Linked DNA regions of Homo sapiens: region 2 is linked to region 1. The links come from fine-mapping of genetic effects on gene expression. Tissue or cell type: whole blood. Region 1 holds a variant in brackets; the other region holds the start of a gene. All regions are shown on one strand. Distances are from middle to middle.

Region 1 (10,305 bases):
CTGAGCGCTGCAGACACCTACAGCCTGGGACCACGTGCTGCTCAGAATGCTCATTCTCTGATTTGTAAGCAATTAATATGGCTGTGACAGCAGCAATCCGGACACAGCAATGCAGAATTCTCAACACAATTCTACTTCCTAGCTCTAGTATTTGCTGAAATGTGCAACAACATGTTCTATAAATCAACTAAAATTTGTTGAGTGTTTACTGTGAGCCAGACACTGTTGTACCAGTATTACTGCAGTAACTCATTTAATCCTTACAACAATCTTACGAGATGGATTCATTTTTCCAAAAATGTACATTGAAACCTAAGCAAGTTAAGTAATATGCCCAATTCATAGAGCTTCTCACCAGAGTTTGGATTCAGGTCATCTGACTCCATAAGCCAGGTGTTTAGCCCTTACTCTCTTTTGCCAAACTGCTAGAATTATAAAAAAAACTGCAAAATGAAATCATTCATTCCTTGGTGTATTTGTTTTCTATTGTCACATTACCAGAAATTTAGCGGCTTTTAAAATAACACAAATTTATTTACTTACAATTTTGAAGATCAGAGTTTGGGGCTAAAATCAAACTGTTGGCAGAGCTTCATTCCTTCTTGAGGCTCTAAAGGAGAAGCTATTTCTTTACCTTTTGCAGCTTCTAAAGGCCGCCTACGTTCGTTAGCTGGTAGCCCCCTCCTCCATCCTCAGAGCTCGTCACTACAGCCTCTGATTTTGCCTCTGCATCTCCTTTCTCACCCTGACTGTCCTGCCAGTCTCTTATCAGGACCCTTGTGATTACACTGGGTCCCACTGAATAATCTGGGATAACCTCCCCATATCAAGTTCCTTAACTCAATCACATCTGCAAAGTCCCTTTGCCATCTAAGGTAACAGATTCACAGGTTCCAGGCCCTGGGATATGGACATCTTTTGGGGATGGTCATTATTCTAACACAAATAAGGAACTAATAAGCCCACCCATGTATCTGCATCATATGTTTCTTAAAAAGAAAAAGAAAAGAAAGAAGAATAAAACACAAGTCTGCAAGTTCATAAAGCACTTAGAAACTATCGGTGGTCAATATGGGGGTCACGTGGAATTGTCCACAATGTCTACTTCTTGGTAGGTTTGTACAAAATCAACAACTGTGAAAAGTTTCACATTAAATTCAAAATCAATAGCAGAGAGAGTTGAGAAAATCCCAAATATGTGGAATTAAACAATACATTCCTAATAACCAATGAATCAAAGAAAAAAAATCACAAGGGAAATTTGAAAATACTTACAGATGAAGGAAAATGAAAATACAACATACAAAAACATATGGAATGCCACAAAAGCTGCTCATAGCAGCAGCATTATTCATTATAGACAAAAAAAGTGGAATAATTCAAATGGCCATTAAATGATGAATGGATAAACAAAATGTGGTATATTCAAACAATGGAGTATTATTCAGCCATTAAAAAGGAATGAAGTGTTGAGACATGTTATGACATGAATGAACCTTGAAAACACCCTGCTCAGGGAAAGGAGCCAGGCACAAAAAGCCACATATTATGATTCCATTTATATGCAATGTCCAGAATAGGCAAATCCATAGAGACAGAAGGTAGGTTAGCAGTTGCCAGGGGCTGGGGGGAGGGAGGAATGGGGAGGACCTTGGTGCCTCACCAGAGCACACACCAGCTAACCTGTGATGGCCATGTGGCATGAATGAGAAACAGACATTTGCTGTTTTATTTAATTTTTTAATTTTTTTTGGGGGAGGGGGACAGAGTTTTACTCTTGTCACCCAGGCTGGAGTGCAATGGCGTGATCTCGGCTCACTGCAAACTCTGCCTCCTGGGTTCAGGTGATTCTCCTGCCTCAGCCTCCCGAGTAGCTGGGACTACAGGAATCTGGCACCACACCCAGCTAATTTTTTTTTATTTTTATTTTTAGTAGAGATGGGGTTTCACCATGTTGGTCAGGCTGGTCTTGAACTCCTGACCTCAGGTGATCTGCCCACCTCGGCCTCCCAAAGTGCTGGGATTACAGGCATGAGCCACCGCGCCCAGCCCATTTGCTGTTTTAAACCAGTGAGATCTGGGGCCTTGTTTATTATCATGGAATTCTAGTCCGTCCTGATTAACAGAGGGTAATGGATAACCCGAGGGCATTTTTCCAATATCCCAAAGGGATGGATAATTAATTACGCCCCCCCCCCCTTCTATTTGGAAATTTCACTGCAAGTTCTTCTAAGTACTCTTAGGACAGGCAACAGCTGAGTGGTCCCGATGAGCCCAGGACATCTCTGATTATTTGAATGGACTTCTCTTTCCCCTCCAGGTGCAGCTGGCTGTAGCAGAATGTGGTTTGAGAGTCCCAGCAGCGCCCTGAGGCCTCTGCCTGCTGAGTTCCTCCCATGAGTCTTCAGTCTCCAAGAACTGAGCTCTACTCTCACGGGCCCCAGCCTCACTCACAGGGACCCTCCAGTCACCTTTTTTATTTTCTATTTTTATTTATTTTTTTGAGGTGGAGTCTCGCGCTGTCACCTAGGCTGGAGTGCAGTGGCGTGATCTCAGCTCACTGCAACCTCTGCCTCCTGGGTTCAAGTGATTCTCGTGTCTCAACCTCCCCAGTAGGTAGGATTGAAGGCGTGCGCCACCACGCCCGGCTAATTTTTGTATTTTTAGTAGAGATGGAGTTTCGTCATGTTGGCCAGGCTGGTCTCGAACTCCTGACCTCAGGCAGTCACCTCCTTTAGATGATGGCCTTTCTTTGGGGGTTTCTCTGTTGTCCCCACCTCTGCCACTGTCCCTGTATTCTACCCTGCCTCCCTAATCTACCCACCCTGGACTAGACTGAAAGACCTGGACCTGGATTGAATGTGGAACATCTCTTACCGGACTTGGTTGTAGGAATATGACCATGCATTCATTGCAGATGCAAGTTAAAGAAGAATATTTTAAATATTGTTGGCTTAAGCCAGGCGGCAAAATATTCAAACATAAAATCTCAGATGCAGCCAAATCAGAACAGCGTGTTCTGGTGACGCGTTTCGGCAAACGCAATCATTCACGGGCTCCTCTGAGCCTAATTAAGCAAAAGCCCAGCTGGGGGCTACAGGAAAAACAACTGTGGATTCTACCTTCATTGCAACAGGTTACAACTGCTGATTTATGCCTCTCGGCAGGAACAACTGGCCCTGGGCCAGGGAGATCACGGAGGCAGCCAAGGAGCCCATGGGTTGCCCCCCTATCCCGGTCCACCCCACGGTGAGGACAGTGCCCTCAGTCACCAAATGCTCAGGATTTACATGAAGTGGGGTAGTCAGAAACTGCAGAGAGTCCATGGAAAGATAGGGGTCACCTCTTGGGGACAGCCAGGACCAGCCCTGCACTGAGTCAACACTTCTGCTGTTCTGCCCCTGAGCCTTTGCTCCCCCATCTCTCGCCGGTCGTTTCCTGCCAAGCGTCTGGTGCCTTCCTGCTGATCCCAGCTGTTTCTTCCCAGGGGCGTCCTAGCAACCATTCAGCCCTTGCATCCTTTCCTTTGAAAGGCCACCAGTCTCCCTCCTTCCCTCGAGCAGGAGGACCGCAGAGCGCACCCTGACGGAAGCGTTCACACTCAAGTGTTTATGGTTGCGTGTCTTCTTGCACAGGGATGTCTGCGTTTCCAATACCGGCTTCTGGACAGGACTCACTCCGAGAAATAAATGTGTAATGGATATTTCTTTTCTAGAACAAATGGGGTGGAAGTGGGAGTTTTGGCATCTCTTGAAATTTCATTTCGAGGTAAAATTTCATTTTGAGGTAAAATTATGAGAATTTCATTTCATTGTAAGGCCGTTCTTGCTGGCCAACTGAAATGTGTGTTGGAAGAAATGCAAGGGGCTCTTACGAAGCAGATGTTCAGGGCAGCACAGACGCTCATAGGCTCAAGAGCAGACAGACAGGGAAGGAGCTAAAAAGGGAAAGCTTTTTCTCAGATAGCACAGCTAGTTCCTAAGACTAAGGGTCATGCCCCAGCTGCTGCAGCATTTTCCCAAGTTCTCTGTTTCTTCTAAAATCACACATTTTCTCAGTGCTTTTTGGCTTACTACCTTTAATAGGCATATAAACGTTTTAAAAACTCATATCAGTATTGATAGCTTTCCTATAGATTAAACGTATTCTTAAACTCCCACTGCCCACATCCACCAAATAGAAACACAATGAATTTTAAGGCAAAAGCACTCCTTGCTTTAAGGTACCCGTAATATTACCCGCTGTGATATTGTTGTCTGTCCCACTATAAATCGTGTCCCATTATTATGAATAATTATCTTTCAATAAGGGTTAATTTAGAATTCTACACTCTTTCTTTTTTTTTTTTAAATTAAAATGTGTGGTGGCTCACATCTGTAATCCTAGCACTTTGAGAGACTGAGGCCAGGAGTTCCAGACCAGCCTGTCTCTACAAAAAAAAATAAAATTAAATTAAAATTAAAATAATAAAAAAAAATTTTAATTAAATGTGTGTGCCCTTACTGTACTTATTTTCTCTTTATGAAAATGTATATTTTTTCTTATGACTTAAACACCACGCTAGGTTTTATTACAGAAAATCTAGAAAACAGAAATTATAAATAAGAAAAATCTTTCTGGCTGGGTGCAGTGGCTCACGCTTGTAATCCCAGCACTTTAGGAGGCCAAGGCAGGCGGATCACCTGAGGTCGGGAGTTCAAGATCAGTCTGGCCAACATGGTGAAACCCTATGTCTACTAAAAATACAATAAATTAGCCAGGCATGGTGGCATGTGCCGGTAATCCCAGCTGCTTGGGAGGCTGAGGCAGGAGAATCGCTTGAACCTGGGAGGCAGAGCTTGCAGTGAGCTGAGATCGTGCCACTGCACTCCAGCCTGGGCCACAGAGCGAGACTCTGTGTCAAAGAAGAAAAGAAAAATCTTTCGTAAGTGCATGACAAGGAATTCTCCCAGCAATTTATTCTCAGCATATATATGCGTATATATACATATTTTTTAAAAAATCAGAATCACACTATATTTAGTGCAAACTTTTTTTGTCATTTAGTAGAGTGTATTTTTTTCTAATGTTCAATATTCTGCTGTGTGATAGACATGCCAAATCCATCTCTAGACTCTATCCTTTCCCCTGAATTTAACTGGAAGAGTTGACCCTATGCACCATGTGATCCCAATTCAGAACATCTCTTCACTTATGCCCACCAAATACCTTCCCCACACCCGTGATTGGACCAGGTCTGGATTAGACTCAAATTGAGTCAATCAGAATCTCTCTCCCAGTAATTTGGAATTAGTCTGTTGCTAGGGTCTGTTTGTGTTTCCCTAAATTCATAAGTTGAAAGCTATTCCCTCAGTGGGATGGTATTAGGAGGTGAGGCTTTTGGGAGGTGATTAGGTCATGAGGGTGGAGCCCTCATGAATGGGATTGGGGCCTTTATAAGAGAGGCCCCAAAGAGATTCCCCACCCTTTTCACCGTGTGAGGAAACGGTGAGAAGGTGGGTGCCTGTTAACGAGGAAGTGGGCCCTCACTAGACACTGAGTTTGCTGGCAACTTGGTCTTGGACTTCCCAGCCTCCAGAACTGTCAGAGATAAATTTCTGCTGTTTATAAGCTTTCAGTTTATGGTATTTTGTTATAGCAGCCAGAACTTACTGAGACAGGCCTGTAAGGCTGAGTCCCTTAGACCATGATGAAGGCCTGTGTGCTGTACAGTTGAACAGCGTCCGGGCAGACACGGCTAAAATCCAAAGAATGTGCTCCATGCAAAGGGAATTCATGAGGGAGTGGA[G/C]ACAGCATGAGTAGGCCAAGTGAGATTATCTAAAAAGAGAAGCAGAAAATGAGAGTAGACCTGTTGAGAGAGGCAGGGACAAGATGCCACAGGTGTTCATGGATGAGACAGTGGGCAGCCCTAACACCTGCTCCACGCCCCACGTGCACTGGCTGAACTTCTCATCCTCATGAGTTTGCTTGTTTTGACTTTTGAGTAATTTGCGTTTTTACTTACTTTACTCATTCAAGTCGATTTCACCTGAAGAGCACTGACTAAGAAAATCATAGTTACTTTAATAGCTGCCTAGTTTTCTAGTGTATAAATATACCATAATTCATGTAATCAAGTCCTTTTTGGTTAGATATTAAGATGTTTCTATGTCTTAACTATTCTATTTAATAAAGAACACTATAATAACTATCATTCCAACTAAACGTTTGCAAATATTTCCTTAAGGTCAAATATGCAATCAAATGGGATTGCATCAGATGAGAAACTATGGGTCAAGAAAATTAATATCATTTGTGCATTTCATTCCCGGTAGCGAGATGTCTGAACATTTCTGTTTTCTGCATCCTCGCCAATATTAGGTTGACTACTGAAAAAAGAAACAATTCTGCCAATTAAAGTAGTTAAAAATGTTGTCTCCTCATATTAATTTAGATTTCTTTGATGCCTGGAATTGCACATACTTTCCTCTATTTATTGCTCAGTTCATTTTCTTCCAATACGAAATGTTTATTCATGTCTTTTACTCATTTTCTTCTATTTAGATGCTCATTTATATCTTTTTGATTTGTGAGTGCTCTCTCTCTCTCTCTGTGTCTGTCTGTCTCTCTCTCTCTCTCTGTCTCTTTGGTTTTGCTTTTGGCTTTCGGTTTGTTTTTTCTCAAAGACAATGTCTCACTATGTTGTCCAAGCCAGATTCAAGCTCCTGGGCTCAAGCAATCCTTCCATCTCAGCCTCCTGAGTAGCTGGGACTGCAGGTGTGTGCCCCTACCACCTGACAGGATATTAAACTTGATTCCTACACACTTGAAATTTATCTTCTCCTATCTAGTTATGTGCCTCTGAATTTTATATATGAAATATTTGATAGACATTAAAAATATATTTGTATAGTCATGTGTTGAGATATTTTCTGTTGTACTTTAGTCCTTTGATGTCATAACTAGAAAGTAGTTCATCTGCCTAAGATTATATAATCATATACTTTCATTTTTAAGAAGACACATTAAAAAGGAAATGAAATACCATAGCACTTAGAAATCAAATACTTAAAAGACATAAAATAGAGACAGAAAGCAACACATACTAAAATAAAGACAAATCCATCACCAAGCCACCTTTAAATTTCAGCGATACTGAAAGTTACCAATTATGAAACCATTCTCCCTATAGAAAAAATAAAGCAGATGTTTTATCTCAGAATAAAATTCGTTTTAAAACTATTTCCATCCTGCCTTAGACTTGCCTATATTATTTAAGTCATTAAAAAGTACCAAGGGCCAGGCGCAGTGGCTCACACCTGTAATCCCAACACTTTGGGAGGCCGAGTTGGGTGGATTACCTGAGGTCAGGAGTTCGAGACCAGCCTGGCCCACATAACAAAACCCCCTCTCTTGACTATTTTTAGTAAAATACAAAAATTAGCCGGGCATAGGGGCTCATACCTGTAATCCCAGCTACTCAGGAGACCTAGGCATGAGATTTGCTTAAACCCAGGAGGTAGAGGTTGCAGTGAGCCAAGATCACGCCACTGCACTCCAGCCTGGGTGACAGAGTGAGACTCTGTCTAAAAAACAAAAACAAAACAAAACAAAAAAACAACGATAAAGAAAAAGAAAGAAAACAAAAAAAAGTACGACGAAAAAAAATAAGACAGGAGATATTAATTCACGTAGCCAAGACTCAACTGTTTCTCTTTTTCCTGTGGATAAAACTGCAGAGAGGCAGTGATGAGAGAAAATCTACTCTAGCTCTCCAAATTTATACGACCCCATTTGTTGGTGTGGCGAAGCAAGAAGAGGGGTTATTTGGATGTGACGTGTTGTCATCTGGCGAATTGTGGGGTTCCTATTCAGAAACATCCCTGGAGAGTCTGAATTGTGGGCTATGGACGCTGCATAGAGCCTCGAATTCACATGATTAGTCTTATTATCATTTTTTTTGTCTTGTGGCTAGAGAGAGGAGCAAAATTATGCCCCGTGGGTTGCAAGAGTTGTTCAGTCATGAGATGTAGCAGGGACCCGGGATGGGAAAGGGTGGGGATGGGAGTAAAAGGCGAGAGAGAAACCAGGGGAAATCAAGGGCATGTTGCAAACCAGCTGATGTGGGGTGTTCTGTAACTGAAGGTGGTACTGTTACCCCATTCTACAGATGAGGAAACAAAAGCTCAGAGAGGTCTAGTAACTTCCCATGGTCACACAGCCAGTGAGGGAAGAAGTTGGGATTTGGAAAACATGATGTTGGAAATAACAAGAATAAGTGAAGACACTGAGAAGGATCAAAATCCAACATGAACTAGGTGGTGAGGACCAGCTTTGTAATTGAGGGGGGGCTCTTGTGGCTGATCCTGATGGGCAGTGTTCAGACGGCCAAAGTTTAGATTTTAGCTCTGAATTCTATCTATTCAAGCATACAATGCATGTCTTAGTAAGAATGGCTTCAACTGGTATGCTAACTTTTTAGGTCCTTTCATTTTATTCTGACAACAATCCTTGCGGGTAACCCAGTACCTATTTTAACACTTTGCTTCAGAGTTAGAAGTTTTTATGAATTGATTTTATGGAAGAATTTTTGTAAGTATGTTTAAATGTTATGCCCTGGTTATCAAACAAGACCCAAGCCTAGTCAGGCCTCTTAAGCATGGAGAGAGATGAGCCTTCTCAGCGATCTGCGCCTTTAAGGAGGGCTCCGCTCTCCTGTCTGCATCCCGGTGCTGCATATAAATGGCCTCTGTGGCTTCAGCCTGCTTATTTCCATTCAAAGTGTACACTCTGCTTTTTCCCCAAAGTAAAAGCATTTCCAGGAGCGCCAAGCACATCTCTTTTTTGTAGACTTCCTCTTGGCAGAGTGAATACTGCTGATTTATAAATTACATGGAGGTGTGCAAAGGAGATCAAGGTTCAGTGGATGTGAGCCCACATATGGCACCTCCCACAGGCCCAGACGCTGCCCTTAATTCTCAGCTCATCGCTTCTGCCAACCTTGTCAGTTCTGGCCACTCAAGCGGCACTCTGATCAAAGCAAAAGTAGTTGTCTTCCTCTTAGAAAAGAGGAAATAGGGTTCTTCCTTTTGCAAGTTAACATACTCAAAGCATCATTTCCCTTGTTGAATTTTTCCTAATCCTTATTTGAAATAGGCTCCTATGCCTTCATAGGGGGCCATTTTCATTGGCGAAGAAATTGTCCTCTGTTTTTTTGTTTGTTTGTTTGTTTGTTTGTTTTTACTATCAGATGCAGAACTCTATTTGAATGAAATCTTTATAGGAAAGAGGACATGCCTTCGATGACCACATTCCCCTCCCATAATCTGATGCTAGAATGCAGTGGAATGCACATTGCTTCTCATCACAAATAGCCACTGAAAAGGAGAAATTCTTGGCATTGTGGACTCACTACTTCCTGTGGATAATTACTAGAAATATACGCGTGTGCATGCATGTATGTTGTGTATGTGCCTGTCCAACATGCTGGGTCAAACTTTTGGATCTTTGAATCATACTGACTATGTGGAATACAAACATGATACCGCACCCTGTGGATCGTCACAGTCTCCCTGTTTCTCTCGGCAATGCTGGCTGGTTGTCTCACCAGTTAATGAATGAAAGAAGAGGGAAAGGGAAGGAAAGGGGATGAAGAGGAAGAAGAGGAGAGATGGCAGGAAGCTCTGACATACACAGCCCCACTCACTGGCTCACTTTCCAGCCTCTGCTGTTATTCCTTCCTTCTGGGCTCATACCCTGGGTCTCCAGCCAACTGGTGATGAGAGTCCAGGGACTTTACTGCCTTTTCACCTGTCTGGTGTCTCAAAACAGAGAACTGCAGCCCAAGACCATTTTACCTTTGCAGTAGAATGTGAGAATTAAAACTGATCTCGGCTGGACACGGTGGCTCACGCCTGTAATCCCAGCACTTTGGGAGGCTGAGGCGGGTGGATCACCTGAGGTCAGGAGATAGAGACCATCCTGGCTAACATGGTGAAACCCCATTTCTACTAAAAATACAAAAAATTAGCCGGACATGGTGGCGTGTACCTGTAATCCCAGCTACTCAGGAGGTTGAAGCAGGAGAATTCCTTGAACCTGGGAAGTGGAGGTTGTAGTGAGCCGAGATCACGCCATTGACTCCAGCTTGGACAACAAGAGCAAAACTCCATCTCAAAAAAAAAAAAAAAATACTGATCTCAATTCAGGCAGGCTCTGTGGCTCACACCTGTAATCCCAGCACTTTAGGAGGCTGAGGAGGGAGGATCACTTGAGGCTAGAAGTTTGAGACCAGCCTAGGCAACAGAGCAAGACCCCATATCTACA
Region 2 (8,000 bases), 66 kb before region 1:
TGGGGGCTGCGAGACCCCCGGCTCGGGGCAGTGTTCTGCACCGGCCCAAGAATGGGTCCTGCAAGCAGTAAACTCTTTGGTGGGGACCTAGAGGGTTGGCGGGGGGGGAGGGAAGTGGAGAAGTGCGTGGGTGTCTCCCACTCTCTTGCAGGCAGGCAGCTTGGTCCCAGCAAGAGCAAAGATAAGATCTGAGACGGTATTTATTTATGGAAGGGAGAAAGCAGAGTGTGTGCAAATTTAATGCTTAGTAGGGAAAAAGCAGGAGACCTCCTATCTCCAGGGCGGGCCTAGGGAACAATTCCTGCTGAGCAACAACGCCTCTCCCCTCCCCCACCCCACTTACCCGCTCAACTCCCTCCCCACCCCCAACAGCCTCCCCAGGAAACGAGGCCACATTTAAGCCTGTTTTCTCCTTTTCTCCGACCTGCTGGAACATGGGTTCTTTCCCTTGGTGTAGACACGCTAGTAGGTCTCCCAGTTCCCTTCTCTACGGTGCAAGAGTGGAGGGGGGATGGAGAGTGGTGGGCAGCGGCAACCGAGCCAGATCCAAGAGGGGTCGGCCTCGTCTAAATTGGTTTCCCACCAATGGCCTCGGATCAGCCGCGGCTGTGCTGCGGGAGCCCTCAGGACGCGGCTGGGGTTGGTGCGCGGGGCCCCGGAACCCCAAACCCGGCTCGGTTCGGCAAGGTTCAGGGAGACAAGGTAGAGAAGGCTGGGGTGAGCGAGAAGTCGGGCGGCCGATCGTCAGGGCCACGAGCCTCGCCTTGCCTTCTTGGAATCCCACCCAACTTTAAAGGCCCAAAGATCCTGAAAATTCCGAAAGCGAAACTGCGAGCTGGTCTCCAGAAGTTTGAGAACGGTCTCCCAGGCTTTCCAGCGTCGTCCCGGGATTCTCGGACACCACAAACGCCATCAACCACGAGCACCGGTGTCCGTGGCTATTGCCCCGAATGGTCCCCATCCGCGTCCCCGGGAACTCCCTCGGCTTTTCGCGCATCCAGGTCCCCAGCCCCAGCTACTGGTGCGCCCCGAGCCCCTAGGTGCCAGAGCGGTGGTCGGCCGGGCTCCTGCCCAGTCTCGGCTCCTCCCTCCTCCCCACCAGAAGGAAAAACTTGGGCCCTTCGAGAACCCTGTGGAATGTTCTTTGTAATCAACTGTACATCCGCTTCCACGGCACGGCCTCGTGCAAAATCGCGGGTTTCGGGGCCTTGGAGCAAATTGCGCTTGTCAGCGGCGACGTCAGGAGGACAAGGGGAGGGGTTCGCGGCTGAAACTGCAGCTTCGCAGCACAGAGCCATTTTAGGCTGCTCCCCACCTCGCGGGGCCCATGGGAAAGCCGGCCCCGGGAGGGCGCGCCCAAACGCAGGCTGGAGGAGCCACGGACGCGTCCTGGCCGGCGTGTCGCCATCGTTCAGCCTCGCTGCCCAGGTGGGAGGGGTCACCTGCCGCGGGGTCTCCAAGCCAGTGCCGCTTGCTCCCGGCCCCCACCCACTGACAGCACGGCGTCCGAGTGACCCTGTCTAGCCTCGTTCTGCGCTCCTGCAAACCACGTTGCTGCGCTAACTACAAACCTGGCCAACATGTCTTTGTAACCCTATCATTTAAAAACGCTTCCAGGCACCTGGCCGCTGCCAGATCAGGTTCGCGGGCCCGGAGGAGGTCCTCCCACCTGCCCCCGCCAGCCCCGGGGACCGTGCGCGGCCTCCGTGTGGCCCCCGCCCACGAGGTCCCTCGGGCAGGAACCGCCGCGCGACCTCTGTTCAGCGGCCGCGTCCTGGCCACGGGCGACCCCTGTCGGGAACCCTGTTCCCGGCTAAGCTGCGTTCCCGCATTCCGGTGGCTCTCACCCGAGCTCGCGTTTGCTGGCTTTCCCTCTGGCTCCTCTGCCTGACCCCGATTTTGTCTCCGAACTCCACTCCCAGATCCTCCCCGCCCTGGAACGCCGACCTTTCCCCCGCACTTCGCCGCCCACTCACATCCCCCGGCGACTGCCCGGCCTCCATGCCCGCCAAGACAAGAAGATGCCCCTCTCCGATGCGCCGAGAGGGTTCCTAAGCCGAGCAAGGGACAATTTCTTCCCCAAACGCTGTCCCCATCCCCCACCTTCCCTAGAGCGCGAAACCCAAAAGTAAGGAAGGCAACCCCTCGCCTCGACCCTACGTGCTTGTCTCCCAGAGCCGCGCGCTCCCGCCCTTCTGCCCCACCCCACCACCACCACCACCACTTTGGTCTTCTCCAAGCTTCGGTCCCGGTCCCCCACCTCCCACCCCAGAGCGGCGTGGAGGAAAGCAGGAGCCCACTATTAAGTGCAGCGCGCCCCCTGCACACACGAAATCCGGCTGGCGTCTGCAGCCCGATTGCACCCAATACCCGGGACAGTTAGTCCTTTTAATAAGCACCTCCTCGCCCCACCTACTCGGGGATCTACCCGCGCAGGATCCAGCACACACAAGGCGAGAGCTAGCTCGTCTCCTAGAAAGACAAAATAAATCACTCCCTCTGCCCTCATGTACTTTACACCACGTGTCCGCAGTTTGTCACGTCAAATCATGGCAGGGTCTGGTTCCAAGACGCACACACACATTCGGGGTGGTTCTCTTTGACACACACACCCAAAAAAACTGCGCACACGCAGGCCTGCACACTAATCCACAGGCACACACGACAGTTGCGTTTCGGTGCCCTGGTCCGGGCCAGGGGCACTTCTCCATCCCTTTCCCCCCTAGCAATGGACTTGACACACAGACTCTAACCACGGAAAAAAAAAACCGGACAGCCCATTCCTTCTTTTTTTCCCCACTTAATTCGCTAAAGCGCTTCCTGGGGTAGCCAAAGAGAGTCGAAACTAAGGGGTGGAAACTTCAGCTGGGTTTTTTCCCACCTCAAAACCTTTATTTTCAGTTTTTAAAAGCCACCTTAGCCCGCCATATTGAAACTGGCACGGTTTCTAAAGACTCCTTCCCCGCAGTTGTGGCGCTTCCAAGAAAACACGAGTACGGATCAGGCTCTGGATGAGTGTCCGGCCACCGAGAATCAGCCACTTCCCACCCTCCAGGATCCCCCAGCTCCCTCCAGCCCCTTCCCACCGCCCCTGGTCAAAATCAATAAATACATCTCGCAGTTCCTACAGTTGCATTTTGGCGGATTTCTGCAAAACATACACACACATACACATACCCACGCACGCATATTAAAAAATAAACTCCAGAACCAGCTCAAGTCAGCAATTTTGAAAGGGGGTCGAATAAGAGGAGACAACCGGAAAGCCCCTAAGTGACAGGATATTACTTTAAAGAGAAAATAATGAACAAAAAGACCATCCTCGCTGGAGCACGCTCCAAAACTACTACTGCCAATTTTATTTCAGTTGCTCAGGCAAATGTTTCCAAGGGAGCGATTCCGAATGTCTGCACGATTTTTACCCCCATGCCGGTCTCCGATTCCCCGTCCTCACCATCTTTTTCTCCCACCCAAACCAAAAGAAAGGGGAGACCCCAGCGCGGAGGAGACGCGGGAGCGCGGGGTAGGTAGCAGCGGCGGCTGCGTCGCTAAAATGAGTGCAGAAACGAGGAAGGTGGGCGGCGGGAGGGGACAGGCTGCGCCCGGGGAAGGAGGACACTTTGCAACTCCGGACGGACTCCCGCACGGCTCGGCTTTTCCGAGCCCGGAGACGCAGGCGAAGGGGACCCGGGAAGCAAAAATGACAACCTGGAGCGCACAGAGGAGTTTGAAGCTTCGCTCAAGTGCAGTCGCTTTCTTCTCCTGCCCTTCTCTTTCGCTCCCCTGCACCCTCCCCAGCCTTCCCCCACCCGCCACCTCCAACCCCAGCTCCCTCAGGCTTCCTTCCTTTTTTTTTTTTTCCTTTTTTTTCCTAGGCTGGAAAAAGCCCCTGACCAGCGCACTCAACCTGCGGGCCGAAGGGCTGCTCTCCGGCCAGCCTGGGCGCCGGGGACAGCAGCCGGCGCGGCGTCCTACCTGGTGAAGTTCGTCCTGCCCTCGGCGTGGACCCAGGCCCCGGTCGCCGCCCGGGAGGGCACCGGCCTCGCTCGCTTGCTCGCTCGCCCGCCCTTGCCCGCTCGCTCCCCGCCCGCCGCCTCCCTCGCGCGCCCGCTCCGGTCCTCCGGCTCCCACTACAGCTCATTCCAATATGGCATCCTCTCTGTGCGCATGCTCGGCGCTCTTTTTTTTTTTTTTTTTTTTTTTTTTTTAAGATTTTGTGTGTGTGTGTATGTGTGTGCGTGCGCGTGCAGCGAACTCCTTCAACGACCTTTTCCAGCGCTTGCAAAATTTCTTAAGCCAATTAGCCTGCGGGACGTGATCGGCTCCTTCCCCAGCCAGCTCCGCGCCATTCCCTGCGCCTAAGCAGGCGGGCACCCCCAGGACCCTGGGACCTTCCACGCCCACGCGGCCTCCTCCCCACCGCGCTCCCCTTCCTCCTTTTTGTGAGCTCCCTCCATACATGATCTGCAGAAAGTTCCCATCGCGGGCGTTTCCGCACACCCCTCCGCAAGGACAACTGGGCAAACTCCCGTTTCCCTGGCTGCGGTTCGTGAGCTGGGTTTCCAATGGCTCAGTCGACCGTGTGCACAAACTTGCGCTTTATCCGCCGGGGATCGCTGGGAGCGGAGATAAATTCAATCCCCAGGGCAATCTTGGCCCCGCCCGCCCCACCCCATCCTGTGCTTAAATAGAGCCTTTCTTGAAGCTGCGAACATTTCCAGGCCCCTTGGGCAGGGCTGGAGGGGCCGAGGAGAGCTATTCGAGGGAAAGGTGCCCCGAGGGGCAGGAAATTAAGTTGGGGCTGCCCGGGCGAGCTGCCAGGTAGCCGTGCTCGCCACGGCGTCTCATGGGGCACCTAGCTAGTGGCGGGCCTCATAGGGCGGGAAAAGAATCGTCGCTCACACCCCAGCAAAACGTGGCCCTCGACGGTCCGTTGGAGAGCCCCGGCGGCCGTGAGCCCCGGGCAGGGCTGGACGTCTGCGGAGCCCTCGGGCACTTTGTCCCGGGCGCCTGGGGAGGAACGCGGAGCTCCCAGGGCCTTAGGTGCAACGGCTGCGCAGAGCCCAAACGAAATGTCCCCAGTGCGGAAAAGCCGGTGACGCCCTGGTAGCAAGACCAAGAGCTTCCGAAGAACGCTGCGCCCTTAACTAGGGGGCCTCGCAGAGATGCCTGTGTGGGCCTGCATTGTATATTTCTGCGAAATAGCGAATGGACACGTTTGCTCAGGGTTTTTATGGTTGCCAAAGGGGGTAAAATTACCCAGTCCCCCAAATCTGTGTCCCATGAATCCCTCTCATAGTACCCCTCTCCAGGGGGCCAAGAGGTCCTCCAGGTCCCCGTGGGTTCGCAGCTCCACCCGCCCTTCCTCGCCCTGCATCCCTAAGGAGAGGTGTCCGCTCTGAAGGGCTAGGGGCCAGCCATGGAGTGAGGGGACCGGGGCTGACCACGCGCGGCACAGACAGAGGTCCTCAGGCGGGCCCTCTCCTGGACGGTGGGGCCGGAGCTGATCTAGAAGAAATACGGAGGGACGTGCCGAGAAGCCGCTCTCCTTCGCCGCGACCCTGGAGAGCGCCTCTCCACCCAAAGGATCTGCCGAGCTGAGAGATCCAGGGCGGGCGTCCGCAGCCGTGAGGCCCCCTGCGCCGCCAGTATGGGAAGATCCTGCCTCCTTACACCTTGGAGAACGCTGGGCGACGACTAAAGCGCCTTCCGCCGGCCTGTCACTCCATGTGACACAGGAGCCACGTGAGACCCAGAAGAGTCCAGCGACTCGCCGCGCGGCGCACTTTAAACTCTAGCCTGAGTCTGCGACCCCTCCAGCTCTCCAGTCCCCAGCTGTTGGGGACATCAAGCCGGAGCCCTGGGCTCTCTGCCCTGTGGGTCGCTGAAAGCAGAGACTCCTCAAACCAACCGAACCGGGCGCATTAACCCTCTCGCCTGCACCCCGCTGCCTCCCGGTTGAGCCCCGAGGCGGCTCCAGGTAGAACCTGCTGGACTGACTGCGGCGTCCAGAAATCTGGAGTGTGGGCTCCAGACACTCTCCACGGTTTGGCCCCGGGTCTCAACACCCAAGTCGCCTCTTCTGGCTCCTTCACCACACAGCGGGGCCTGTGGAAAGGGAGGGGCCGAGAGACCCGTCGGCGCACCACTGTCCTCGAGGGGTCCCCACCCTGTGCACTGCTGAAGCGCAGGGCGCGCCGCGGCAGGAATGGCCCCGAGTGCGGATCCCCTGCCCTGAGCCTCCCACTCTTGGCCCGCGCTGCGCCTACCCAGTGGCCCTGGCCCCGCAGGGCGACAGCGGCTGCTCCCTCCCATTTGCGTCCCAGACCGCGCGGCCTCGCTTAGCTCCCGGGAGCCGACAGGCGCTTGCCCTGGTGCCAGCGCAGGGCTTCCCGGGGGCTTGGGGTAGGGGTAGGGGTGCGGGGGGGAAGGGGAGAACGTAATTTCCTTCTGCAGGAGTCGTGGAGACGTGAGCTGCAACCAGCCACCGCGCTCTCTCCAGGCTTGTTTACCAGTTTTAGGTCATCATTGTGCACGAAACATTCTTTCATCCAAATAAAAGCAAATGCAGAAGAACACCTGATCCCAAACAGTGTATGACTGCGTTCATTATCTTACCTGGTTACTCCGAAGGAGTTGAATTTTTTTAATGTTTTGGGTACGTAGACCCCGTATAATTTTGCTCCTGGGTCCACAAAATGGTGATTTTGGGGGAGGGTTACCTATCGTGATTAAGAAATATAATCAGGAAGTCGCAGCACACAAAGGTGGCATTGTTATTGTAAAAAAAAACTCCTTCCCTCCTATTTTTGTGTTGCTTTTTGCACGTGACTTTTTGAAGATTCCTTGATTTTCTTTTCTGCAACCGACCTCCATTCTCTTTTATCCAAGGGCACCAATGAGGCAAATGAAAATTGGTTAGGAGATTCCCTGAGGCAATTCAAGTGGCCCCTTCATCCCACTTCAATACCTTTCCACTTTCATTTTTATTTCAGAACCAGACACTTTAGGGATATATACCCAGATGTAGGTTGCACCCTAAATCAATTAAAGGTAGGAAAAAATTCCACATAGTCAGCAAAGGATAACGCACTGACAAAAATTGTGACTGCTTTTTTAAAGTAAAGAAGGCTTATGCACTCCAGCTCAAACAGGGTCATGAAAATCTCATTATCAACACAAGATTTTTCTCTATACTGTTAATATTTACTAAAAATCTTGGCCAAAATAAGCCTTTGATCACACTAACTATAGATATTATTTCACTCCTAAACTTTGCTTAAGCCATGAATTTCATCACTCTACAGATCAAGTTATCCCTTCACAGGGACTTTGGAATTCTTTAACATAAATGGGGCTAATTGGTTAATTGTAAAATATTTAGATGCTATTCCATTTGTCTAATGATACAGCACAAATTAGAAATATAAAATAACAATTGAAAAGTTTTTGTCTCATTTTCCTTATATTCCTAAGCATTACATCACAAAAACTATTGCAGAGGAGTTGAAAAATTATATGTGTACTATTTATTCTCTTTATATTTAGGACATGTGATTACTTAAATCTTGTTGCATTAGTCGTACCCAAGAAAAATGTTCAATTTGTACATACCTAGTCCATGTTTAAGTTATCACTTCCCACTGGGAAAAGGAAATGAACCAAAGAAAATAGAAGATAAACCATTATGCTTTCTTAATATAGAGACTCCCTAATGAACCATTAGACATACTAGCCTAACAGGAAAGCAGAAGGAGGAGAAAAAGAGGCCAGAACCAAATATTTGAAGAATTTGTACAACCTTCTCTTTACTGGAGCCTTGAAACCAAAACTTGTTTTTTCTTAGGCTACATAAGATAGTATTTTTCCATCAGGATCCTAAGGTCACAAAGAGTAAATCTAAATACACTCTGTCTTTTATTTTTTCACCTTTTTTCCTTATCTTCTATCCCCAATTAAAGCACTTAATGGTTAATGTATTGGGAGTCCAGTGACCTCAG

The links. PIP is the estimated chance that this variant, and not a neighbour inherited with it, causes the effect.
Region 2: SFMBT2 starts here. The variant in region 1 is fine-mapped to the expression of SFMBT2 in whole blood (TOPMed, PIP above 0.99).

The regions. Positions count from the first base shown.
Region 1 is chr10:7,472,227-7,482,531 of GRCh38, forward strand. It overlaps LINC02642 (long intergenic non-protein coding RNA 2642), which reads right to left and starts at 623. Exons shown (of 4, transcript NR_184109.1): 1 at 544-623. RefSeq lists enhancers at 1-71, 8,631-8,870. The variant G/C (reference allele first, on the strand shown) is at 5,789.
Region 2 is chr10:7,406,886-7,414,885 of GRCh38, forward strand. SFMBT2 (Scm like with four mbt domains 2) reads right to left here and starts at 4,149. Exons shown (of 21, transcript NM_001387889.1): 1 at 3,976-4,149. RefSeq lists enhancers at 1,024-1,919, 1,967-2,046, 4,398-5,318, 5,319-6,238 and silencers at 1,467-1,806, 4,023-4,162.